Linked DNA regions of Homo sapiens: all the other regions are linked to region 3. Evidence: fine-mapped expression QTL. A gene starts in region 3. Each other region holds a variant in brackets. All regions are shown on one strand. Distances are from middle to middle.

What was found. PIP is the estimated chance that this variant, and not a neighbour inherited with it, causes the effect.
Region 1: its variant is fine-mapped to the expression of MAD1L1 in whole blood (TOPMed, PIP 0.93).
Region 2: its variant is fine-mapped to the expression of MAD1L1 in whole blood (TOPMed, PIP 0.96).
Region 4: its variant is fine-mapped to the expression of MAD1L1 in whole blood (INTERVAL, PIP 0.92).
Region 5: its variant is fine-mapped to the expression of MAD1L1 in whole blood (TOPMed, PIP 0.90).

What each region holds. Positions count from the first base shown.
Region 1 is chr7:1,866,147-1,871,146 of GRCh38, forward strand. All of the region lies in intron 18 of MAD1L1 (mitotic arrest deficient 1 like 1), which reads right to left. Among named protein-coding and RNA genes, the nearest start is that of MIR4655, 24 kb to the left of the region's middle. The variant A/G (reference allele first, on the strand shown) is at 2,087.
Region 2 is chr7:1,908,573-1,913,572 of GRCh38, forward strand. All of the region lies in intron 17 of MAD1L1 (mitotic arrest deficient 1 like 1), which reads right to left. Among named protein-coding and RNA genes, the nearest start is that of MIR4655, 67 kb to the left of the region's middle. RefSeq lists enhancers at 3,065-3,565, 3,743-4,376, 4,377-5,000. The variant T/C (reference allele first, on the strand shown) is at 2,037.
Region 3 is chr7:2,230,780-2,235,779 of GRCh38, forward strand. It overlaps MAD1L1 (mitotic arrest deficient 1 like 1), which reads right to left and starts at 2,166. Exons shown (of 19, transcript NM_001013836.2): 1 at 2,093-2,166. It overlaps MRM2 (mitochondrial rRNA methyltransferase 2), which reads right to left. Exons shown (of 3, transcript NM_013393.3): 3 at 3,416-4,785. The coding sequence ends at 4,343. RefSeq lists silencers at 1,665-2,084, 2,062-2,440 and enhancers at 2,075-2,369, 2,155-2,284, 3,019-3,551.
Region 4 is chr7:1,935,487-1,940,486 of GRCh38, forward strand. MAD1L1 (mitotic arrest deficient 1 like 1) reads right to left here. Exons shown (of 19, transcript NM_001013836.2): 17 at 1,201-1,411. Among named protein-coding and RNA genes, the nearest start is that of MIR4655, 94 kb to the left of the region's middle. RefSeq lists enhancers at 4,433-4,482, 4,479-5,000, 4,903-4,992. The variant G/C (reference allele first, on the strand shown) is at 2,733.
Region 5 is chr7:1,889,691-1,894,690 of GRCh38, forward strand. All of the region lies in intron 18 of MAD1L1 (mitotic arrest deficient 1 like 1), which reads right to left. Among named protein-coding and RNA genes, the nearest start is that of MIR4655, 48 kb to the left of the region's middle. RefSeq lists enhancers at 684-1,184, 1,185-1,685. The variant C/A (reference allele first, on the strand shown) is at 3,048.

The DNA of each region.
Region 1 (5,000 bases), 360 kb before region 3:
GGGCCAGAACGCCCGGGTGCACACTGGGAGCCAGGTGCCTGGGTTGGGAGTATAGGGCCTCAGTACATGCTGGAAGCCAGGTGCCCAGGTTGGTGGTGCAGAGCCCGGGTGCGCTCTGGGAGCCAGGTGCCCAGGTGGGAGGAGATAGACGCCTAGGCCCTTGCGCTGTGGGTCCCGACAGCCTCTGCCCTCCAAGACAAGGGTGGAGCCTTGCAGAGCCTGCTCCTGGAACCCTAACTGGTTCTGTAAAGCTCCCTGTGCCCCCACTGCAGGCTGAGGCCGTAACATGCTCCCAGGAACAAAGGGCTGAAGCAAGAGATGAGAGCGAGCTCCACCCTCCAGACGGTTCCAGTCTCTGGGGCAGAGACACGAGGGTGCACTGTGCTGAGGAGAGGTCTTAAGTGGGGAAGAGGAGGCTCAGGGAGCGCTACAGAGAAGCTGCTGGTGTGAGACGCCACGGGAGGCTGCGGACAGGCAGGCAACGCAGAGGCCATGGCACCTCTTGCCGGCCAGCCCCAGAGCAGTCCTGCTTGGCGGGAGCGTTGGGGGCAGGCAGGGGTGAAGGGCAGGGAACATCGTGAAAACCAACTAGATCTGTTCCACGGGCTGACGGGAGCCCTGAGGGCCTTCAGTGAGGGTGTACCATGACTGGGGAAGCAGCAGGAGGCAGCGACATAGGGCCCGGTGAGGGCCAAGGAGGAGAGATGGGCAGCTCAGCTGCCAGCGCTGGCTGGGCCAGGCTCCTGCAGGCGTCTCACTGTGCTGGCCTGCTCTCCATGCCCACAGCGGTCCTCCTGCAGTAGGGATGGGGAGGTGCAGCTCGGAGGTAGGGGAGGTAGTGGGCAGCACTCACTACAGGGCCCGCTGGGCTCCTGACCGCAGAGTGGGTCACCACAGCAGCACCTGCTGGCCCAGTGGGTGAGGGGCTGAGGTCGGCTGCAGTACTTGGAGATCTAGGGCCAAGCTGGGGCGAAGTGGGAGACAGAGGCAGGCAGAAGCTGGTGAGATGGATGGCACGGTCAGTGCCACAGACATGGGCACCGTAGGCCTCCCCTGGCATCACTGACCACATGCCAGGGACACACATGAAGCTCATGCCCAGCCCAAGCTCCAGAGGCCTTCGGGGCTAATGGAGGAGGGGAATGCCGGGACAAGGAAGTGTGGGACAAGGAAGAGGTGCTGGCTGCCTCCGCAGGACCCCCCCGGAAGATGTAGAGGAGAGAAGCGGGTCCAGCATGGAAGGCGGCACTGCAGCCTGAGCTCCAGGTCTGGATGAGGCGGTGGCAGCAGCTTCCTCTGGGGGCCGCAGGAATTGGGACAGATCTGGCCCTTCTGCTCGCCCAATCTTCTGCAGAGTGCAAAGCGGGCCATGCATCCCACTGCAGGTGTGCAGTGAGTAGGAGCGAGGTGGGCCATGGGGCGCGGAGGCTTCTGCACATCTCAGCAGCACTCTGCCAGATTCTACCGGTGGCTCGGGCCCAATTTCCATTCCAGGAACCTGCGCCTGAGGCCTCCTGCAGGCAGGGAGAAGGGCCACGCTTCCTGGCCTCCGGGGCAGAGCTCCTGCAGGGTGGCTGTAGGGGATGGGAGGGGTGGCACAGGGAGGTGACACAGTCCCTCATTGGAGGGACTGGACGGGCTGAGCACTGGCCCCTGCCATCAGCTCTGGGACAATAATTGGAGCTGAAGTTGTTCCAACGACTTATTAAAAATAAATGGCGATGCATCGGAGGCAGTCCCTGCCCAGATGAGAGCCACATAATTAGAGCAGTGTCTGTGCTCGCTTCTCCCGTCTTCCCTAATACGGGGCGACAACCGTCTCTGAGGGGCCCTCCACATCTGTCCTCTGTGTGGCCAGTGCCCTGCCCTGCCCCACATGGCGCTGAGCAGACGCCAGCAGTAATTCCCCTACTGACCTCTGTAAGCACTGTCCCTGCCGTGCCCGCTCAGAGTGGGCCCTCCTGCACCCTGCCATTCAGCCCAGCGAGGTGCACTGTGGCCCCCCAGACACCAGCACTCCTGACCCCACAGTGGCCCCTGGGGTGGACAATTTGGCCAAGATAACCTTGAGGCAGAACAGGGAGCC[A/G]AGCCCCACCTGCTGATAACCGAAATCAGTTAGAACTTTCTGGATTTTTAAGGAATTGGCTCTGAGATTTCAAGTCACTGCCTCCCCAGCTCCTGGGTACTGTGGAGGCAGCGTGGACTTCCATGGCTGCTGCCGCCCAGCACACACCACGCTTCCCGGGCTGCTCCCACGCAGGCCGCGCCTCCCGGGCTGCGTGCTGCTGGAGTGGGGCCCTCCATGTCTGTCCTCCCCAGCGAGGCCTCCCACCCACCCCACCCCACGGATAATTTACACAAAGAAAGTACAGGCTCAGCAGGGGGTGGGGAAGGGAGCTCCTGGAGGTCCCTCCAGGGATGGAGCATCATCCTGGGGTCCTGGGATTAGGCTTGGATTTCTCCAGCGCGTCATGCGATACCCTTGCGGCCTGCCTGGAAGTCAGCACAGCCCATGCCGGGTAGGAGTGACACGCACTGCGTGTTCACAGCCTTAACCAGAGGCGAGAGTTCTCACAGTTGGGGATGCGGCTCAGCACCAAGGGGCCAACAGGACGCAGTGACGACCACCAGGGGAACGCCCAGAAGACCAGCATGTCAGCTAAGGAGCTGAAGGTGTGACCTCCCCACACAGGGGCCCAGCGGTGCAAGCCCTGGCACACCAACCCTCTGCATGGAGAACCTGGCCTCTTCCCCACACGGACGAAGCTGAGCACGGAAGCGCCGCCTCACCGCGCCAGGCAGAAAGCTAGCCCGGCACAGCCCAAACCCTCGCGTGTGTAGGACTCCCCCAAGGCTCTGTGAAAGGCAGGCTCTGGCTCGGCAGGCTGGGGTGGGGCCCGAATGGCACCGACGCAACTGGTCCAGGCCACACGTGGACGGTGAGGCCCGGGACGGGAACATCCGAGCAACGATCCATGCCCAGGCACCATCGCCCGCCCCCATGGCTGCCGGCATGGGGCGGGGTTGGGTCTCAAGGAGAAGGCACACACGCTGCTGTGGGGGCCACAGAGGCCCGGGGGAACGCCAGGGAAGGAGCAGTCAGCCCACGTGGAGAGCACCCCTTGCCTGGGACCCCCTCCCACAGCCTCTCCCAGAGGCCTCTCTGAGTTCCCAGCATCTACCTCGGCGCAGGCTCTTAGCTCTCCCTGAACTCCACCTTATAGGCTCTCAAGGGCAAGAACCAAGTCCAGGTTCCTAAACTCCCCAGGTTTCCTTAAATCCCCAGCCCAGGGTTGGGCACAGCGATGGCCTGCAAGAGCTCAGCCCACGTGCAGCTGGGAGCAGGTGACCTCCCCAGGGCCCTCTTCCCAGCGCCTTTGCTGCCTCCCCTTCTCTCCAACCTCAGTATCACAGGGACCCGGGAAAAAACACTGAAAAACGTGACAAAACGGAACATAACCATGTTCCAGCCTGGCTGTGCCATCCATCTCCAGCTGCCGAAGGGTAATTTAATTAGCCTGCGTCGGTAATGAGCTACGATTGTCAATCAGCACTGTCACACTAGCACGGGTTGAGGGGGCCGAGGACCACAGCCTCATGGAGATCACGTGCGTGGGCTCCATGGAACACATCACGACTGTCCCTGCAGGAGGTGATGCCACACCACACCTAGACTGGGCTCCCGCAAGTGCCTCCATGGGGCAGGCAGGTTCAGGTCCAGCTGCTGACGGAGGACCCAGGCTCGTCCCACAAGGCAGGCTGTGAGCCCAGGAAGCAACGGGGTCCAACAGGCGGCTGGCTGGAGCACTTCATAAGCCAAGGGGTGCCTCGCCCGTGCCTCCCCTGCCCCTGCCGTGCCAACCCGGAGTCCACATTGGTAGGTGAGGTGTGGGAGGCCCAGACACGGCAGAACAAGCCTGACCTTGAACCGAGACAGGGAGAGTGACTGACCCCAGATGCGAGCCGCTGCCCAGAACTGTCGGCAGGAAGGCTGTGCAGGTGGCAGCTCACGATGTGTCACATCCGGCCTAGTTGGTGCCCAACATATGCCTGCCATGCTGAACCCAACATATGCCTGCCACGCTGAACCGACCATAACACCTGCCACGCTGAACCCAACATATGCCTGCCACGCTGAACCGACCGTAACACCTGCCACGCTGAACCTAACATACGCCTGCCACGGTGAACCTACCGTAACACCTGCCATGCTGAACCCAACATACGCTTGCCATGCTGAACCCACCATAACACCTGCCACGCTGAACCCAACATACTCCTGCCACGCTGAACCCACCGTAACACCTGCCACGCTGAACCCAACATATGCCTGCCACGCTGAACCCAACATACACCTGCCACACTGAACCCAACATAAGCCTGCCACGCTGAACCGACCATAACACCTGCCACGCTGAACCCAACATACGCCTGCCACGCTGAACCCACCGTAACACCTGCCACGCTGAACCCAACATATGCCTGCCACGCTGAACCCAACATATGCCTGCCACGCTGAACCCACCGTAACACCTGCCACACTGAACCCAACATACACCTGCCACACTGAACCCACCGTAACACCTGCCACGCTGAACCCAACATATGCCTGCCACGCTGAACCGACCATAACACCTGCCACGCTGAACCCAACATATGCCTGCCACGCTGAACCGACCATAACACCTGCCACGCTGAACCGACCATAACACCTGCCACGCTGAACCTAACATACGCCTGCCACGATGAACCTACCGTAACACCTGCCACGCTGAACCCAACATACGCCTGCCATGCTGAACCCACCGTAACACCTGCCACGCTGAACCCAACATACGCCTGCCATGCCGAACCAACCGTAACACCTGCCACGCTGAACCTAACATACGCCTGCCACGTTGAACCTACCGTAACACCTGCCATGCTGAACCCAACATACACCTGCCACGCTGAACCCACCGTAACACCTGCCACACTGAACCCAACATACGCCTGCCACG
Region 2 (5,000 bases), 320 kb before region 3:
TATGTTGCCCAGGCTGTTGTTGACCTGCGGGCCTCATGTGTGCCTCCCACAGTGTTGGGATGACGGGTGTGAGCCCCGCACCCGGCCTCTCTTTCAGTGCTGAAGGCATCGCCCTCAGGTCTCAAGTGCTCAGCACTGCTGTGGAGAAGCCTGAATCCGTTCTGACTTCTGGTCTTCTACAAGTGACTGGTTCTCACTCCCCGGAAGTAGCAGAGCCGTGTCTCTGTTCTCAACATTATGAAACTCCCCCAGCATGCATTTCTCTCATGACCCCCACCACACGGCCTGGCTCCCCCAAGTGTCTATTTCCCACCTCTCGTTAGATGTCTCCCTGGCGGCGGCTGGGCGCCTGGCATGAGCAGCGGCCCCAGGGGGTCCTGCTGGACTGTTTCTGGGAGGCTGCCAGCATTGGCATCTCCAGATCTTCCCTCTAGGATGGGTCTGATGGGTCAGAGATGACTCTCAGATGCTCAGTGCCAGTGGGAACACAGGGCAGGAGGGAACGTGCCCAGACTCGGAGCAGCGGGACCAGCCTCTGAAGGAGCCCGACACCGGCGTGGTGTACTAGTAGGTGACGCAGAGGCCTCCACATCAGGCCGAGGTCTGACCTCGACGAGAGACGACCAAGGATCCCCTGCACGCTGCGGACACAGGAAGCCAGTGGAGGCCCAGGGCTGGGGGAGCCGCCCGAGTGTCCCTGCAGAGAGTACTCTGGGCCCTGGCAGGCACTGGCAGCCCCGGTCCTGCCCAGGCCCAATGCCGAGCCAGGCTTCCCGGGACTGAATTATTCATGTTTTGCAAGCTTCTAAACTATTTCAGTTTTACATTTTTAAATATTTAATAATTAGGCATCAAATATTGATGCAATTTTATTAGCAGCCATGGGCATGGGGCATTGCAGTGGTTATGGCTGTGCGATTTGTATCCGGGTCCTGGCTGGCTCTGCAAGAGACTGTAGGAGGTGGGGACGCACCTGTAGGCTGGCCGGGACCCCCCGGGATGTCACCCGTGAGAACCGTACCCCAGCATGCCCCACAGCGCCCCACCTGGCTCATCCCAGGGGCTGCCGGCCCCAAATCCAAATTCCCGGAGACCAGCCCGAGGGGCTGGCAGGCATCATGGTCCCCAGGAACTGGCTTTGGCAACAGGAGGATGGGACGCCACCACCTGCCAGCCAGGGCCTGCTGCTGCCCCAAGAAGATGGTCGCTTCAACTCTGCTGGTACCAGACGGCCCTTGAGACACGGCCTCCATGATGAGCCATGAGTTCCCCTGCTGGGCAGAAACTGCACACTCTGCTCCAGTGAGAAGACACTCGCCCTGGAATTACACACGGAGGAGCCGCTCCCTGGCCCACCACCTGGCAGGCGCTGGCTGGGTGAGCTCTGTGCAGCTTTCAAACAGGGCACCTCTTGTGTGATTAACGACTTACTCCAGCAAGCAGCTTGTCACCTTGCACAAAACTGATATGAAAAGACACCAGCAATTACAGCCACCAGATTACGGGGTGGGAGAGTCCTGGGGTGACAGGCGGGCGCGGATATCATATTTGGAGAAGAATCCTCCCCCAGCACCGAGAACACAGCAGCTGAACCCCAAGGGACAGCCCCCTCCCCCGGCACCAGGCTCCACAGCCCCCATGGGGTCCTTCGGCAGCAGAGGCCCAGCGGAACCTTGGCGGAAGGAGGGACATTGGCCCCCGTGTCAGTGATCCTCCGGACACCCTGCATATGTGGGGGGACGTGGCACCTGCTGAATGGACAGAAAGATGCCTGCAGGAGGCCAGAATCCAGCTCCACGGTCTCTGGCCAGCAACAGGACTACAGGGAGGGCTGGTCGCAGCAGCCGTCCGACGCGTCAGCACAGGGCCACCTCTGCGATGCCAGCACTGTTGAGGGGACCCCTTGAACACCCGCCGCGGAGCCAAAGCTGGAGCCCACGCTGGGCACTGCCCTGGGGGCTGAGCAGCTGTCTCCATTGGTCATTCAGGCTTCAGTTCAGAAAAGCCTCCCTGGGCCACCCCCACCAGTGGTCTTC[T/C]GGGCACCCCACATTTGCTTTCTCCCTAGAGCTCACGAGCATCTGAGATCGCGTGTTTGCCCGTGTCCTGGCCTCTCTTCCACCTGGAACACGTTCGTCAGGTGAGAGCCTGCTCGGGCTTTGAGTAGGTGCCTGTCCGGGGCAGGAACACGCAGCCTCGCTGCACCCATCCCAGCCGGGCCCCGCCCTGGGGAGCATGGCTACGTTTGTCCCCACCTTCTGGATGGGGAAACCGACGATGAGAAAGCAGGGAGAGGGCTCCCTGTGACGCCAGTCAGGCGGGACATGGGCTCCAGCATGGCGATGTGGGGCCACAGTGTCTCTCTCCTGACCCCCAACCCTGCACCCATCCCGTGACCGGAGGCCCTGGCGGGGCCTGGTCTGGGCGCATCAGTCCTTTCAAGTGGCCTCAGCTGCCTGTGCCCACAGCCCTGATTAGCCGTGAGGATTCATAACTGCAGGCGTGCCTCATGTCTAAGTGCTACTCCCACAGTTCCCGCTCCTGGGCGGCCGCCTCTCCCTCCATCCCCCGCACCCCTTGAGCCAGACAACTTGAGTTGCCTTCGGCCTTCCTGGATTCAGCACTCAACACCCGCTGGACACCAGGTTTCAACGCTCTGTCCTCACCAACCCTCCCTGGCACCACCTCTGCTCGGGGTCTTTCTTTACTAGAGTCCAAATTCTACTTCCTGTCACCCTCCTCTCCCTCCTCCTCAGGCCCCAGGGGTCTTTCTTTTGACGCAGAGCCCAGCTTCGGAAGGGGAGCACTGCCCCCGGCGCAGTCACTTGCAGAGTCAGAGCCCAGCTTCGGAAGGGAAGCGCCATTGCCCAGCACAGTCACTCGTGTGCAGCCCAGGTGTTCTGTCCTCTGCCGCTACAAGTCCACAGTCCTCCCAGACACCCCAGGCACACTCAGAACGCATGGTGCTCATTTCTGCTGCCACAATGTGGCGGGCACATTTGCCTTCTGCCAGGGGACGATGTTCACCAGCGAACTTCTGCAAGGCCAGACTCCGGCGTCACCTCCAGATGAGGCCCCTCTTGGGCATCCCAACCCTCTCCAGTCCGGCGTCACCTCCAGAACAGGCCCCTCTTGGGCATCCCAACCGTCTCCAGTCTGGCGTCACCTCCAGATGAGGCCCCTCTTGGGCATCCCAACCCTCTCCAGTCCGGCGTCACCTCCAGATGAAGCCCCTCTTGGGCATCCTATCCCTCTCCCCTGGACTGGGTCTGAACCTCTGCGGCACACACACGCCTTTCCAGCTGCGGCCACCTTTGCAGGGCTGCTTCCCTCACTGTGTGAGCTGCCTGAAGGCAGGGGCTGGGCCTCACCTGTCCAACCCGCCCTCCATGCAGCTGCAGGGCAGAAGTGGTGGGAGTGGGCTGGGTTCCACATCCCCTCAGACACTTGTCGGGGGTCTGGGGGCTGACGGGAACCATGGCCAAACCCAGAAGTCTGCAGGAGTACACATAGCTGTCGGGATAGTTTCCTTCTGACCCAAAATCCTGAAGTGGGGGAAACTGGGGTGGCAGGGGTCCAGATGGCGGCAGGGGCCCTGCGTGCGGGTACAGACCCCAGAACCAGCCAGCTCCGTGTGTGTCAGCAGTGGAAACCGCAAGGCCAGCCCTGTCGACTGGATGAAGGATGGCCATCTGAGAGACAGACAGCAAATGGGGGCATGTGTGGCTCAAAAGGAAAACTTAACCTATCCTTTTGGGGAACATGAGCTGAGAAACTCTGGTAAAAGGAAGCAGTTGGGGTCAGAGGTGACTCCTCCTGTTTGGGTGAGGTGAGGCAGGCGGCAGGTGTGGGCACCAGGAGAGATAAGAATGGGTGGCCACTGCAGAGACTGCAGGCCCTGCACGGAGATGCCAGCCCACAGAGGGCAAGGGGTGCCCATCCTCTCACGGCTCCTCCTGGCACAGGCAGGGCTGCGGTCCCTGCCGCCGATGCATCAGAGCCACCGGGACCCTGTGCTCCCCATCCCTGCACCAGTGGGGGAACGGTCCTCAGAGCACTCCCCTCTCATCCCACCAGCTCCAGGCAGACCCAGCCTCACAGGCCCACAGCCAGGGCCCCTGTGCAGGCAGGGAGCCCACCGCGCACGCACCTCCCAGAGCCAGAAACACTCCAGAGGGAGCAGTGCCCCACAGCGATATCACAGCCGAGTCAAGACGTGACCACAGAACACGGCCACCTCATCTGTTTCCGGAAGCTTCCCTCCAGGAACATGCCCAGCAGCTGGTCCGTGGAGAGAGGCCTGGGGTGGCGGCGGCGAGGTCCTGGGAGACGTGGGGGCGGGGCTGTGTGGGCTCCGGCCGCTTTGCATGCCGCGTTCATGATTAATTTCCCACCGAGGCTTGCAGAACCTCAGCTCCCCGGCAGGCGAGCCCCCTCTGAGAAGAGGGAAGCCTTTCCAGAGCTCATCTTTTATTGACTGGGTCATTTTCGAGTCAATCTGTCTGCTTTCGGCAAGACGAGAGTTTTAAATCTCCTGTCTCTTTTCCCCTTTTGGAGATGTGGCAGTCTATGAAAACCTGCTAATGTAGGCAGCGAGGCCTCGGATTCCTATGTAATGAACTCTTCAGATAGCAGGAGACTCGGGAAGAGGACACGGAACTGCTCCAGTAATTGGAGCAGCCAGACACAGGGCTCTGGAAGGAGAGGGGCAAGGAGCAGGGTTCTGGGCGGGGTGGGTGCAGGGAGGACCCCTGAGTGCTGAGGAGCACTCCACCCGGAGGAAGCGGCCTGGGGTGGCGTGGGGTGGGGGATCCATCAGGGCAGACGGGCTCTGCATGAGGAGGAATCCGCGCGTGCACGCCCGGCCTGGAGAAGGGAACCGTCGGGGGAGGCTCTCTGAGGCCAAAGGCTTTACCTTCTGGGAGCTGTAGCGGCAGCCAGGCCCCTTGCTCCCCCAGGTCCTGGAGATGGCCCTGGCGTCCTGGGGGTTGGCGTGGGGTCAG
Region 3 (5,000 bases):
CACATTCGCCTTTTCTCTGTTTTTGTCCTCTCCAGGCCCCCAGGCTCTTAGATACTGCCCCTGACTCTGAGGATGGATCTTCAGCACCTGGTCCACTCAGACTCCCAAGCTCATCTCCTCTGGAAACACCCTCAACAGGCACACCCAAAACCAAAAATGATGCTTTCCCAGGTTTCTAGGAATTCCTGAATCCAGTCAGTTGATGCCTGAAACTACCTACCAGGAGCACTCACAGCAAAGTCTGGCCTCTTGCCCAGGCAGGGTGGTTCACGCCTCTAATCCCAGCACTTCGGGAGGCGGAGGCAGGTCCGGAGTTCAAGACCAGAATGGCCAACATGGCAAAACCCCACCTCTAATAAAATACAAAAACTAGCCGGGTGTGGTGGTGTGCGCCTGTAATCCCAGCTACTCAGGAGGCTGTGGCACAAGAATCGCTTGAAACTGGGAGGCAGAGGTTGCAGTGACCTGAGACCGCACCACTGCACTCCAGCCTGGGTAACGGGGTGAGACAGTGTCTCAAAATAAATAAATGAATGAATAAATAAATAAATAAACATAAGCCAGGCACTGTTGCTCATGCCTGTAATCCCAGCACTTTGTGAGGCCAAGATGGGCAGATCACCACAGGTCAGGAGTTCGAGACCAGCCTGGCCAACATGGTGAAACCCCATCTCTACTAAAGCCAGATGTGGTGGCGTGCACCTGTAATCCCAGCTACTCCGGAGGCTGGGACAGGAGATTTTCTTGAACCCAGGAGATGGAGGTTGCAGTGAACTGAGATCGCGCCACTGCATTCCAGCCTGGGTGCCAGAGCAAGACTCCGTTTCAAAAAATAATAATAATTAATTAAAAAAAAAATCTGGCCTCTGGGAATCAGAAACGAGGCATGCAACAGTGACAGTAAAGATGATGATCATCACAGCTGTGCTCATTTTCATTGTTTATTTCTAGTGACATTAATAAGTACTACTACTATTTTCAACTAGGTATCAGAAAGAAAGGTATCTGACATTTCCGAGCACCGAGACTTCTTGAACTTCAGTTTCCTCATCTGTAAACTCATGACAGTGAAATCTACTTGCAAAGTTGTGGGGAACGGGGCCAATATCCCTCAAGTCTTCCACCGCTAGATGATGGGAATACGGCTGCAGGTTGACCAGCACTATATTTGTAAGCTCAGTCTCAACAGGGTGGTGAATTAGGTCTTTTTACACAGATTCTAGAGATGATGAAACCGAAGCTTCAAAAAGTTACAGAACGGAGATTGGAACTTGGGTCTGTCTGGCTTTGGAAGGCTGAAGACAAACCGCAGTAAAGAACTTTGCACCCCCAACACCGGCGCTTACTATGGGCTCATGGCAGGCCGGCCCACCAGCCACAACTAGGGAACAGCCAAGCGCGTTTAAAAGCCAAAGGTAGAACTTCTGCAGCTGCACAGTTTCTGAGTTTCCATTTAACAAGAACCTTGGCCTGGTGCAAGCAGAGGCCTGAGCTCCCCAGGCTGCCAGCCCCGCAGAGGCAGGCCCGCCTGGAAGGAGGCTCCACAGCCCAATTCCTCCATTGCCCAAACGAGATCAGGGTGGCCCTTGCCATCCCCGAGGGGAAACCGGGCCCACACGCCCCCTTCCTGAGAGCGGACCGGCGCGAGCCACCAGGATGCCAAGAGCCCCTGCAGCCCCGACTTCTCCACCAGGCGCCAGCTCAGGCCCCTTCCTCGGCGCGCCGGCACCCTAGCCCGGGGACCCACACGGTAGGCAGCGGGACCCCGGGGCTGGGACCACGAGCACGCGCCCCTCGGCCGCCCGCCCTGGCACAAGGGACGGCTGCGGAGACCCAGGCGAGGGGCCCGCTGTCCCCAGCACAGCCCAAAGGGGGAGTGGGGACAGGGGAGTGGGGAGAGGAGGGGAGAGCACAGAGAGGAGAGCGCGCCCATGGGAGACGGGGCGGGCGCGGGGTCCTGAGGCACGGGGTCTGGGTCGTTGTGCCCCACCCTGGCGAGCACACCCGGTCCGGGCCCTCGGCCCCTCCCTTGCCATTCCCGGGACCCCCGGGACCCCGGGACCCCGCCGCCCGCGCGAGCCGGGCCGCTTACCTCAGCCGCTCGCAGCCAGCTTGCCGCCGCCGCTCGGATCTCCCTCCGCTCCGCCGGCGCCCATTTATCGCGACACTTGCGCCTGCGCTCTCGCGAGACCTGCGTGGCAATCGGGCCGTAAAGAACCGAGTCTGCGCACCGGCTGATCCTGGGGACTCCGCGTCCGCACCCGGAGCCGCCACCCCTGGGAGACTCCGCACGGAAAGGACTCGGAACCGAAGGCTGAGCCAAGGCGCAGTCGGGGGCCCCCCGGCTTTGCGCAGGACGCGCTTCCACTAAGGCTTTCGCCTCGCGCCGTAATGTGTGGAATAGCCGCGCCCACGGCAGCCTCCTCGGACAAACTTGCACCGTTGACTCTTCCCAAAATTTTGCTACTCAGTATCAGCTTGAATCAATCCGTTATTTTGCTTTTTTCTGGGCCCACTAGAAATGCAATTTATGCTACTAGGCTACCTTCCCAGTGCTCTGCAAGCCAGGGCACAGCATCCAATGGGGTGAGGTCAGGCCCCACCATTATTATGGTAACCTTTGTCTATCCTTCAAATTGGAGCCTTCCTGAGAAGAGTGTGCCTTACTCGTTTCCATATTCTCTTCCTCTCCTCCTCCCGTCTCTGCCCAGCCCCTGGCTTCCCTCTAAGAAGATGCTGTTCCTAAGGGTCTGCAATGAATTTTCCTTCTTTCAGAGAAAGACTTCCAAGTTGTGTGCCCCGGGAATGAAATGGAATAAGAGAACGAGGTGGAGTAGGGCAAGAGTCCCTGGACTTAACAACCTGACTGCAACCAGAAATAAAATGAAAAGTCAAAACATCTGGCGGCCGGGCGCGGTGGCTCACGCCTGTAATCCCAGCACTTTGGGAGGCCGAGGCAGGCGGATCACGAGGTCAGGAGATCGAGACCATCCTGGCTAACACGGTGAAACCCCGTCTCTACTGAAAATACAAAAAAAAAAAAAAAAAATAGCCGGGCGTGGTGATGGGCGCCTGTAGTCCCAGCTACTCGGGAGGCTGAGGCCGAATGGCGTGAACCCGGGAAGTGGAGCTTACAGTGAGCCAAGATCACTTCACTGCACTCCAGCCTGGGTGACAGAGTGAGATTCTGTTTCTCAAAGAAAAAAAAAAATCAAAACATCTGACCCGCAGTTTCCTTCGGGGAGCTGGACAGAGCCCCAGATTCCTGATGGAGATTCCTGGGTTTCCAGACTTCCCCCACTGGTCCTTGGAATTTAATCATAGTCAACAAACTCTTCTTGAGGGATGAGTACACCTCCAGGAAATGGCTTTGAGGAAGCCAGTTTAAAAAAAACAAAACTTCAAAGCATGAAAGTACCTTAAAATAATGCAATCTCTATTATTTTATTAAATATAAAGCTGCGTCAAGTTCCTAGATGAGTAAAAGAAAATAAACACACCACATCACTGCTTGCTTTGGCAATTACATTTATGTTCTTGGGAGCCCAGACACTGATATAAATTTCCAGCAAAAACCAAAGCAGACCCACTGCCTGGATAAATTCAGACCATACGTCTTCCCTAATTGTTCCGGGAACTTTTGCTGCTTGAAGAATGCGTGAATTGCTATATTGTTCACCAGAAAGACAGAAGTTAATCCCCAGATGGAAATTTCAGATTTTTCTTTTGGTTTGCTTTTTGGTTTTTCATTTTTGTAGACATGGGGGGTGTTGCTATGTTGCCCAGGTTGGTCTTGAACTCCTGACTTCAAGCAATCCCCCAGCCTCAGCCTTCTAAAGCCCTGGGTTTACAGGCATGAGTGGCCTCACCCAGCCCCCAGATTTTCTACTTTAAACAGCCACACTAAGAACTGGAAATCTGTGCGTGGTGCTCTCAGAGCAGGGGTGGAAAGCCTGTTTGTGTGTGACAGTTTAACAGTCTATAAGATGAAGTCCCGTCAAGGCACACATGGGCACACCCATCCCTGCCTCGGCGGATTCCTTCTGATCCTTCCCACAGTCTGTTTTTCTCCATCCTTCCATCCTCACCTCTTTCTCTTGATAACTTTCTCTTCCCAAATCACAATATAGCGGACTTTTTCATTTTCCATGGCCCCTGAACTTAGTTTTGTCATCTCTTTTTGGTTAAAAAGAGAGAGAGAGAAAGAGAGAGAGAGACTCCCCACTTGTCCTGCTCCATCTCCAAAATCAGCTCAAATCTCCCAGGAACTCTTCAGGAGCTCAGGCTACGTTTCTAGCTTAAAAGGAGCTAATGACCATTATGAAAATGGCACAAGAAATCCTCACTGCTTCACAGTGCCCTTCCTTCCGTGGTACTGTGTGGCCAAGAAGTACACTTCTGATGACTCTTTCCTGCTGGCTTCAGGTTTGATGATCCTTACATTCTGGAATTCCTCTGTCAGTCTCCTCTGTAACCGACGGCTTTGACTTCCAGCCCAGGTTTTACAAAGGAATGTCCCCCCAGGTTGCAGGATGTCTGGGGTCACGCTGAGAAGGGTCAGGCACAGGCTGATGAGCCTGTCATGATCGAGGTCCCGGAACCCTGTGGCATTGGGCGCCATGTCGCTCAGAATCACATCTGCTCTCCTGCCAGGAAGCACCTCGAGGATTCTCTGTGAGGTTCTCGGGTCAGTCACGTCAGCAGGGCACAGAAAAGTTGCTCCTTCCAGGGGGAATATGTGAAGAAGATCTACCCCAAGCACGAAGCCAACAGGAGAGCTGGGATCTATGGAAGAAATGGTGAATGTGTTATTTATTTACACCCTGAATCTTTTTACAAAAATACAGTACATGCAACAAAGTGATGAAATAAAAATAAAATGTCAAGACCAAGGCAAAGAGCTAATGTGCAAATAGGTAAACACAGGCCTTCTCTATCTATACATCCTATAAAGACACATGGTGGAGATGGCGGGCCTTAACATCTGAGAAGCTGAGGCC
Region 4 (5,000 bases), 300 kb before region 3:
CAGGGTGCGCCCAGACTCAGGGCAGTCTTGGCTTATGGGGGTGGGGCACAAGAGGGAGGGAAGACCCCACCTAAGACCCTCCCCACAAAGGAGCGGGGCAGAGGACAATCACTCCTGATACATCAGCCTGGGTGCTGGGCTGTGGGAAGCGGACAAGTCACCGCCACACAACCTCTGCACCTGCATGCTCACAGGGAATGCTCTCCCACAGTACAGGGCGCGATGGCAAGTAGGTGGGAAGAAACAGAAGAAGGTATCATCGGATGAAAGCTGAGTCTGAAATCACCTCGAGATGCCAAAGGCCAGAAAGCAGCAGCCTCCAGGCCCCACCACAGATGAGCCTGCAGACACCCCCAAGGGAGGGGGCTGGCAGCCGGGTGGCTCTAACACAGGAGCAAGGGGACGCCGGGCCACGCTCCAGGCTGCTGCTAAGGGCTGGACAGGGAACCCTCCCCCAGGTCCCCCCAGAACCAGGAGCGTGGGGCAGTGCCCAGCTCCCTCCAACAGCAGAGAGCAACACAGGGGGCAGGGGTCTCCTGAGCCCCACAGCCTCGCTGGGGGTGCAGACTGCACAGTGACTCTGGACTCCCAGCCCTGCTCCTTCAGGGGCACCCTGCAGAGTCGACACAGCCCCGGCAGCACCCTCCGAGGCTTGGCGTGGGCAGACCCCAGCACCACCTCCCCACATCAGGGGATAGGCTGGCGTTCCAAAGGCCGTGGGCCTCATGTAGACCTGGAGGGTGTGGGCAGGCCCTGCTGGCCCTCATGGAGGCCTCATTCTTCCCTGGGACGCCACAGGCCTTGGCCTCAAAGGGCTCTCTGGACGCCATGAAGCACACTTAAGCTGGTGAGAGATGGACTTGTTTTCGTGGAGGACTGGATTTACTTGTGATTAATGGGGTACATATAAACTGACAAATGATACGAATTAGTTTAAGGGCCTGAAATTTCAGCCCCTTGCTTCTCCACAGCTGCCTGCAGACTCGGATGGCTCCACCTGTTTGCACAACCCCACGGGGCCATGGGGACACGGGGCCAGGGTGCTCTGCCCCAGCAACCACCAGACCCGGCTGCCCACAGGGGAGGACAAACCCTCTGGGGATGACAGGCAGGGGCGCCTGAGGCTGCCCCAAAGGCGCACGGATGGACCTACCCACGGAAGGTCGAGGATGGCAGGGACCGGGGGTGGGGGGTGCCTACCTGCCACCTCCTTGGACGATGGCAGACTCGCGGCGGCAGCCTCAAGGTCGGCTGGGACGGTGCCTCCTCTCTCCATGGCGCGCAGGAGCCCGCGCAGTCGCTCGCACTCCGCCTGCAGCTGGCTGTGGTCCTCGCGCAGGCGCTGCCTGGCCACACTGGTGGGGTTCAGGCTCATGTGCAGCACTTTGGTCCTGCTCTGGTCATAGTCACCCTGCAGGAACACACACAGCACAGGTCACCATGGCCCAGGCACACACGCAGCACGGGTCACACACAGCATGGGTCACCATGGCCCAGGAAGACACACAGCACGGGTCACACACAGCACAGTGCTCAGTTCTTTTGTCTTCTTGAGCCTGCCTGGCAGCCATCTCTCCTGGAAGGAGTGGCTCCTTCCCTGTGCCCTGTGGACAGGTGCAGGAACAAGGCCTGGCCACCTGCTGGGTCCCTTCTGCCTAACCACAGGAACAGGGTGAGAGGGGACATGCGGCCTTTGCTCAGCCAAGTGCGGTGCTTCCCAGAATTCCACACTCAGTGCCCGGGAGGGAGGCTTCCTCTCCTCTGAGGTTCCTGGCTGGGATGAGACTGGGAGCCCGTGTGGCCATGTTCCCATCTCTTCCCTACCAGCCTGGAAGGTGCCCCGTGCCACAAGAGAAACAAGGTCAACCACACAGAGATGGAAGGCAAGGGAGCCTGGCATCAGCGTGGGTGGCTCAGGAATGCGCCTCGCAACCTGATGTTCCCACGAAACCCAGGGCCGGGATGTGTGTGGCATCCTTGAGGGAGGAGTGCGCCTGGAGGCCCAGCCTGCTGACCTGTGGTGGGTGACCGACCCCCAGCAACAAGCACCATGCAGCCCTGCAGCAGGGACAGCCCCCCACAGCAGGGGACAGCCGCCCACAGCAGGGAACAGCCGCCCACAGCAGGGGACAGCCGCCCCCAGCAGGGAGGTGCAGGGTCACTGCGCACCCGAGACCCCGACCTCACGCCACACACAAACATCAGCCGCCCACAGCAGGGAGGTGCAGGGTCACTGCGCACCCGAGACCCCGACCTCACGCCACACACAAACATCAGCCGCCCACAGCAGGGAGGTGCAGGGTCACTGCGCACCCGAGACCCCGACCTCACGCCACACACAAACATCAGCCGCCCACAGCAGGGAGGTGCAGGGTCACTGCGCACCCGAGACCCCGACCTCACGCCACACACAAACATCAGCCGCCCACAGCAGGGAGGTGCAGGGTCACTGCGCACCCGAGACCCCGACCTCACGCCACACACAAACATCAGCCGCCCACAGCAGGGAGGTGCAGGGTCACTGCGCACCCGAGACCCCGACCTCACGCCACACACAAACATCAGCCGCCCACGGCAGGGAGGTGCAGGGTCACTGCGCACCCGAGACCCCGACCTCACGCCACACACAAACATCAGCCGCCCACGGCAGGGAGGTGCAGGGTCACTGCGCACCCGAGACCCCGACCTCACGCCACACACAAACATCAGCCGCCCACGGCAGGGAGCTGCAG[G/C]GTTACTGCGCACCCGAGACCCCGACCTCACGCCACACACAAACAACAGCCGCCCACGGCAGGGAGGTGCAGGGTCACTGCACACCTGAGACCCCGACCTCACATCACACACAAACATCAATTCCACCACATTCTGTCTCCTGGGAGTAGACACAGGTTACTCAAACAGGGTTCAGGAAGTGCTGGCCGTAAAAGAAAAAAAAAAGAGTACAACTGACCTTATAGAAATTAAGAACTTCATCCACTGAAACAGTGGAAAGGCACCCACAGAGCAGGAGGTGCTGTTTGAAAATCACATTTCTGAGAAAGGGTTCAGATCCAGAACATACGAAGAAGTCAGAAATAACCAAGGGCATGTCAGAAATAACCAAGGGCATGTCAGAAATAACCAAGGGCATGTCAGACAACCCACTCTAAAAATCTGCAAAACATGTGAGCAGACACTTCCCAAAAAGACACCCAAAAAGCTGATAAACATATGAAAAGGTGCACACACATGGGCCAGGGCTGGGGCCAGAGGCGCGCACGCACACACACACACACACACACACGCACGCACACAGAGACCAGGACTGGGACCAGAGGCGCACACACACACACGGGCCAGGGCCGGGGCCAGAGGCACACACACACACACACACACACACACACACGGACACAGTCCAGGGCCGGGGCCAGAGGCGCGCACACACACACACACACACACACACATACAGGCCAGGACCGGGACCAGAGGCGCACACACACGGGCCAGGGCCGGGACCAGAGGCGCACACACACGCACACACACACACACACACACACATGGGCCAGGGCTGGGGCCAGAGGCACACACACACACACACGGGCCAGAGCCGGGACCAGAGGCGCGCACACACACACGGGCCAGGGCCAGAGGCGCGCACACACACACGGGCCAGGGCCGGGACCAGAGGCGCACACACACATACGGGCCAGGGCCAGGACCAGAGGCGCTCACACACACACACACACACACGGGCCAGGGCCAGAGGCACACACACACGGGCCAGGGCCGGGACCAGAGGCGCGCGCACACATGGGCCAGGGCCGGGGCCAGCGGTGCACGCACACACATACACACACACATACACACACACACAGGCCAGGGCTGGAGCCAGCGGCGCACACACACGCACACACACGGGCCAGGGCTCCCGCCAAGTGCTGAGATTCTGCAGCTTGTGGCTGTGAGCTGTGGGGCAGTGAGACTGGATGGGCACCCGGTCCCTCAGGCACAGACATGACCATGGTCATGACATGGGTCATGTCAGGCACAGACATGACCATGGTCATGACATGGGTCATGTCAGGCACAGACATGACCCAGCAAGCCAGGCCAGCACCACGCATAGCAATGGCCTCCTCCCCTTTGGCAATGAGTTCCTGCCACCCTTGGGGCTTCTGCCCACGCACTCTCCTATCTCCCAGAGGGGAACAGGGAAACACATCCTGTGTTCAGATCACCCCACGCTCTCAGGAGAGGCCGGTGTGGACACACCCCACGGGGTGAAGAGACCGGGCGCAGTAAGCCTCCAGCCTCCCAAGAGCTCAGGCTGCTGTGGGCCACTGCTCTCCAAGTCCCCGAAGGACGGCGAGGCCTGGCTTGGGCTGTACCCTGGGGACCTCACTTGGGCTGGAGCTCATCAGCCATGGGCAATCGTGGTCCCAGAGCCCAGAATGTGCCTCCAACAGGGAGAGAGGAGAGGATGGGGAAGAAGGGAAGAGACCTCACCCCTCCTGGTGCCACCCCGGACTCTAAGACATCCCCCTGACGTCACGTCACACAAGCTAACTGCTGGCCCTGCCACCCCCCTCATGGAAGAGGCCAGTGGAGATGGACATGCTGACCTGGACCAGGGACCTCCGGCCCCATGGCACGATGGCAGAGGCCGCCGCAGAGGGAAGCGGGGTTTGCAGACACGGCTCGCTTGGCCGCTCCCTCTGTGCTTCTCCTGGGAAGGAGGAGGGGAGGGGAAATCCACCCACTCAGGCCCAGGGGAGAGGGAGGCGGCAGCCCTGCCGCTGGGCCGGGGCAGGAGAGGATCCGCGCAGCTCTTCACAGGTTTTCTGAGAACCTTGTAAACCTCAGAGGATGAAGAGACATCTTGTAACTCTGGCTGAATCACAGACTCTTGGGGTTGAAAGGATTGCTACTTCATCCAGTTTTCACAGCCGGGGTTAAGATAACCCAGTATGCAGAATCCAGCCACCCACACGCACTCAGGAGACCCCTCTGACGGGCGGCAC
Region 5 (5,000 bases), 340 kb before region 3:
GGGCTGACTCATGCAGGACCTGGGCCACGTCCCCTCTGCAGGCCGGATGCTGCTGTCAGCTGAGCCTGCCATGTTTGTGGCTTGGCCCTTCCTCACCTTCTAAGCAAGCATGGTGGCTCCAGACCCAGCTAATTCCTTCCCCTCACCCCACCCAGGCAGAGGCCCAGCCACCCATGAGACTCCAAAGCTCAGAGCTGGGGGGCCTGCTGCCACAGCTCGTCAGGGGCCACAGCAACAGCTGGGCTCTGGGCCCCAGGCTGGTGGTGCCCTGAAGGCTGCCCACCCACAGGGCTGTGAAGGCAGCTGGGAGGTGGAGCTGCCTCCACTCTCAAGACACACAGGACCTGGGCCTTCCTGGCCCCTCTCTATGGCAAGAATGGGGAATCATCTCCTGGGAGGGGCATGTATCCGTGGGAGGGTCTCACTCCTGGACCACACGCTCTGTCTGGTGTGGGTATGGTGGGCTCGGATCCCCGGGAGGGTCTCACCCCAGGACCACGTGTTCTGGTGTGGGTACTGTTGGTACGTCCCTGACAAGTCTCATATTGAAATGGGATCCCCAATGTTGGAAGTGTGGCCTATGGGGAGGAGGTGTCTGCGTCATGGGGTCACAGGCCTCACCCACAGCCTGGTACTGCCTTTGAGGGAATTAGTGAGGTCTCTCTCTGTTTCCATGAGAGCTGGTTGTTAGAAGGAGCCTGGCACCCCACCCCTTTGGCCTCCTGCCATGTGATCTCTGCCCAAGTGGGCGGTTCCTCTTCATCTCCCGCCATGAGTGGACGCAGCCTGAGACCCTCACCAGGTGCACACGTGCCCACTTTTGAACTTAGCAGCCACCAGAATTGTGAGCCAAATACACTCCTTTTTCTCTAGAAACCACCCAGTCTCAGATATTCCTTTATAGCAACATAACAGGCAAAGACACCAGGCAAGCCCATCCTGCCAGTTTCCACGGAGGCCCAGGCTGTGCCGGCCACTACAGGTATGTCGGGGAGAGGAGGAGGGAGCCCCGAAACCAAGGCCACCTGTGCTGTTTTATCAGCTCTCCATCGCTCAGCACCTGAGAAGGGGTGCTCACGGGCCCCACTTTGTCCTTGGGGAGCTGAGGCCAGAAGTCATTTCCCAGGGCCAACCTGCTGTGGTAGAGGAGTCTGGACCCTGTCTGACGCCCATGTTCTCATTTTTCCTGGGGAGGTGCACAGCCTTCCTGTCTGGGATTTCCACAGTCCATGCAACAGTGAGAATGCGGGACCCCAGCAAGATCAGACAGACGCCAGCAGCGGGCTCTGTGCGGGACCTCGGCGGGATCAGACAGACGCCAGAAAGCGGGCTCTGCGCCACCTCCCCTTCCCCTGCTGAGGTCCGGCAGGGGCAGCAAGGATGGGCAGAGGGGAAAAAAGGGTGCACAGAAGCGACACCCCGGGCCAGCACAAGGACGAGGGGTGCGGGGCTATTTCTTCTTCCCAGGAAGGCTGCTATACAAAAACATTTTTCTATAGCTGTAGGATGTGCTTGTGCTTTAAGCTAAGTGTTATACAAAACAAATTTTAATAGGCTGGGTGCGGTGGCTCACGCCTGTAATCCCAGCACTTTAGGAGGCCGAGGAGGGAGGATCACCAGGTCAGGAGATTGAGACCATCCTGGCCAACATGGTGAAACCCCGTCTCTACTAAAAGTACAAAAAAATTAGCTGGGTGTGGTGGCGCACCCCTGTAATGCCAGGTACTCAGGAGGCTGAGGGAGGAGAATCGCTTGAACCAGGGAGGCAGAGGTTGCAGTGAGCCGAAATCGCGCCACTGCACTCCAGCCTGGTGACAGAACAAGACTCTGTCTCAAATAAATAAATAAAATTAAAAAGTTTATAAACTCAAAAAGTTACAACAAACTTTATTCTTATTATTATTAGAGATGGGATCTCACTCTGTCACCCAGGCTAGAGTGCGGTGGCGCGATCATAGTTTTCACCGCAGCCTCTAACTCCTGGGGCTCAAGTAATTCTCCCGCCTCAGCCTCTGGAGTAGCTGGGACGATAAGCAGGCGCCACCACGCCTGGCTAAGTTTTAAATATTTTGTAGACACAGGGTCTTGCTATGTTGCCAAGGCTGGTTTTGAACTCCTGGGCTCAAGCGATCCCCCCACTTCAGCCTCCCCAAATGTTAGGATTATAGGCACAGGCCACTGTGCCCAGCCATTCATTTATTATTGAAGAAAAGAACAGTATTTTTAATAGTTGAGTGTAGCCTAAGTGGTACGGCATTTATAGTCTCCAGTTGTGCACACTCATGTCCTAGGCCTTCACACTCACTCACCCTCATTCACCAGCTCGCCCAGAGCACCCGCCAGCCCTGCGAGCTCCGTTCACGGTGAGCACCCTACGCAGGTGCACCGTCTTCCACCCTTCATACATCATGTTTATGGCACCTTTTCCATATTTAAACACGTACAGACACGCAGATGCTTAGCACTGCGCCACGGTGGTCTACTGCATTCAGCACAGTCACGCACTGCACACTTTTGCAGCTTGGCAGCAGCCGGCTAAACCATGCGGCCCAAGGGTGCGGGAGGCTGCACGGCCCAGGCTCGTACAAGTCATTCTAGGAAGTTCCCGCAAAGACAACACTGCCCACCAGCACGTTCCTCAGCATGCATCCCTGTCATCTGGCAAAGCGAGACCGTACTAGACTTACACATATACACACAGGTGAGTGCTGAGTATCCCTTATTGGAAACGCTTGGGACCAAGTGTCTGGGATTTCCAGATTTTCAGGTTGTCAGAATATCTGTATTACGTGCTTACTGGTTGAGTAAGCATCTCATGCAAATATTCATCCCTAATCTGAAAATCTGGTATCGGAAACGCTCCATTAAGCATTTCCTTTGAGTGACAGACCCACAATAAAAAAAGCTGTGGATTTTGGAACATTCCCGACTTCAGGTTTTCGAATCGGGGAGGCTGGACCTGTATACCTTTCCCCCTCATCCATATGACAAACCCGGTAGGTCGACATCGCCACATGTTTGTGCAGTTCCGGAATCTGTGCCGTCCA[C/A]GCCTCTGGCCCTGACGCCCACCCTGCAGGCCTCTGAGCCGGGGAAGGCCCTGGACAGCAAGGAATGAGGAGCCTGCTGGAACCAGTGTGTCTCCCAGATCCCAGAAGCTCACGGTTTTGCCCCAAACTGCATTTGCTCTGTGTCCCCGGCCTGGTCACTCCACTTCTTCTTACCACTGATTTTCTCCCTCTCGTAACAGAAGGCTTCCTTCCCTGGGTTTTGAGAAGAGGGGAAAAGGGAGGTGGGGAAAATTCCGTGAGAACCACTGGGAGGAGTGCAGCCGGGATGGAGAGACCAGGAGCTGAGCCTCCCCGCTCCAGGCCCAGGCAGAGTATGGCCTTCCCAGGAAGCTCTAGGGACTCTGGAATCTCTATCCCCTCTCAGGAGGGAGAGGAGCAGAGGCAGCAGGTTCCCGCTGGGAAGAGCTGGAGCTGAGATTTGCCTGCCTTTCCCCCAAACGGCAGCCCAGGCAGCCAGCTCCCTCCACCCACGCGGCAACAAGAGGTTTGGTCCCGGCTGGGATGGGAAGTCCTGGCTGGGATGGGAAGTCCTGGCTGGGATGGGAAGCAGAGTGGCGGGGGACTGTGCGGCAAACCCTCAATTATCCCAGCACACATCTGTGGAACCCGCTTGACTGGAAACGGCTTCGGCTATTTCTAACTCTGTCTGCAGCCCCCTTTCTGCCTGAAGAATCATTTGGGGGAAAATCTGATAAAATAAATGACATGGCCAGGAGGCTGGGGTTTGGCGAGATCTTTCAGGAGCACGGGAGCCACGTATGCCAGCCCCCAGGTGGAGTGGGTGGGGCAGGGGGCCTGTCTCCCTGCTCTCCCTGCCCTCCCACACTGGCCTCTGCCCTCCGTGGCCCTATCTCAGGAGGGTAGCTCAGGGAAGACCCTCCTGGGCACACCTAGTGATGCTCAGCCCCCTGAGGATGCCTTTCTGAAGCCAGGAGGCCAGGGTCAGGGCCCCCAGGGAGCACCCAGACCACATTCCTCATGACAGATGGGGAAACTGAGTCTCACAGGAGTGCAGTGGCCTGGCCAAGGCTGCACACCAGGGTCAGGAGCTGCCCGGGACAAGGTGACTCCACAGTGTCTCTTATCTCTCCTCTGGACAGTGGAGACCAGGGCCACCGCTGCATGGCCCCAAGGAGTCAGTGACCATCTGCAGGCAGAGGTGCCAACATGAGCCCTGGCCCTACAGGTTGGCTGTTGTCTGTTCACTGTTTGTCTCTTCCCTTTTGCTCCACTGAAACCTGTTTTTCTGTCTGTCTGGCAGAGCCCTAGACTGCCCTCTCCATAAGCCAGGCCCTGAGCTGGGGGCGTGGAGCTGCTGCGAACAGTACAAGTGCCTCTCCTGTCACCAAGCTTGGTGTCCTGGATACAAAGGAGGCAGGAATGACAGGTGGATGGGGCAGGACTGATGCTGATCTCCTGGTCAGAGCTCCTGCCAGAAGACTTGGCAGCTCTAGCGCTGTCTTCTTGGAACCCAAGGGGGAGGATTTCTCAGGAGGCCAACGGCCTCACCCAGTGAAGGGCAGCTCGGAGGAGGACTTGGGAAGAGTCGGCTTACAGGGAGCCTTTGAAAGCTCCCTAAATGTTGCAGGCCCTCCAGAAGGTCTGCAGGGACCAGGACACACAGGGCCGGCAGAGCTAGTCACAGCTCTGGGAGAAGCACGGGTGCACCGTGGGCTGGAGCTGAACCAGCCAACAGGGATCCCGGTGCAACATGACCCCTCCCCAGCTCCACAGGTGGCACTTATGAGACTTGCCTCTTGCAGCCTCCGAAGTGAGCCACAGTTACTTCTACTCCACAGGTGAGGAGACTGAAACTTGGGGAGGTGAGGCTGCATGCCCAGTGTCAGCCCTCATGAACATGCTCTAAAGGCCCATATCCAGCAGGCGATCCCTCCACATCAACCAGATGGGGCGCAGGAAGGTCTGGGAGGC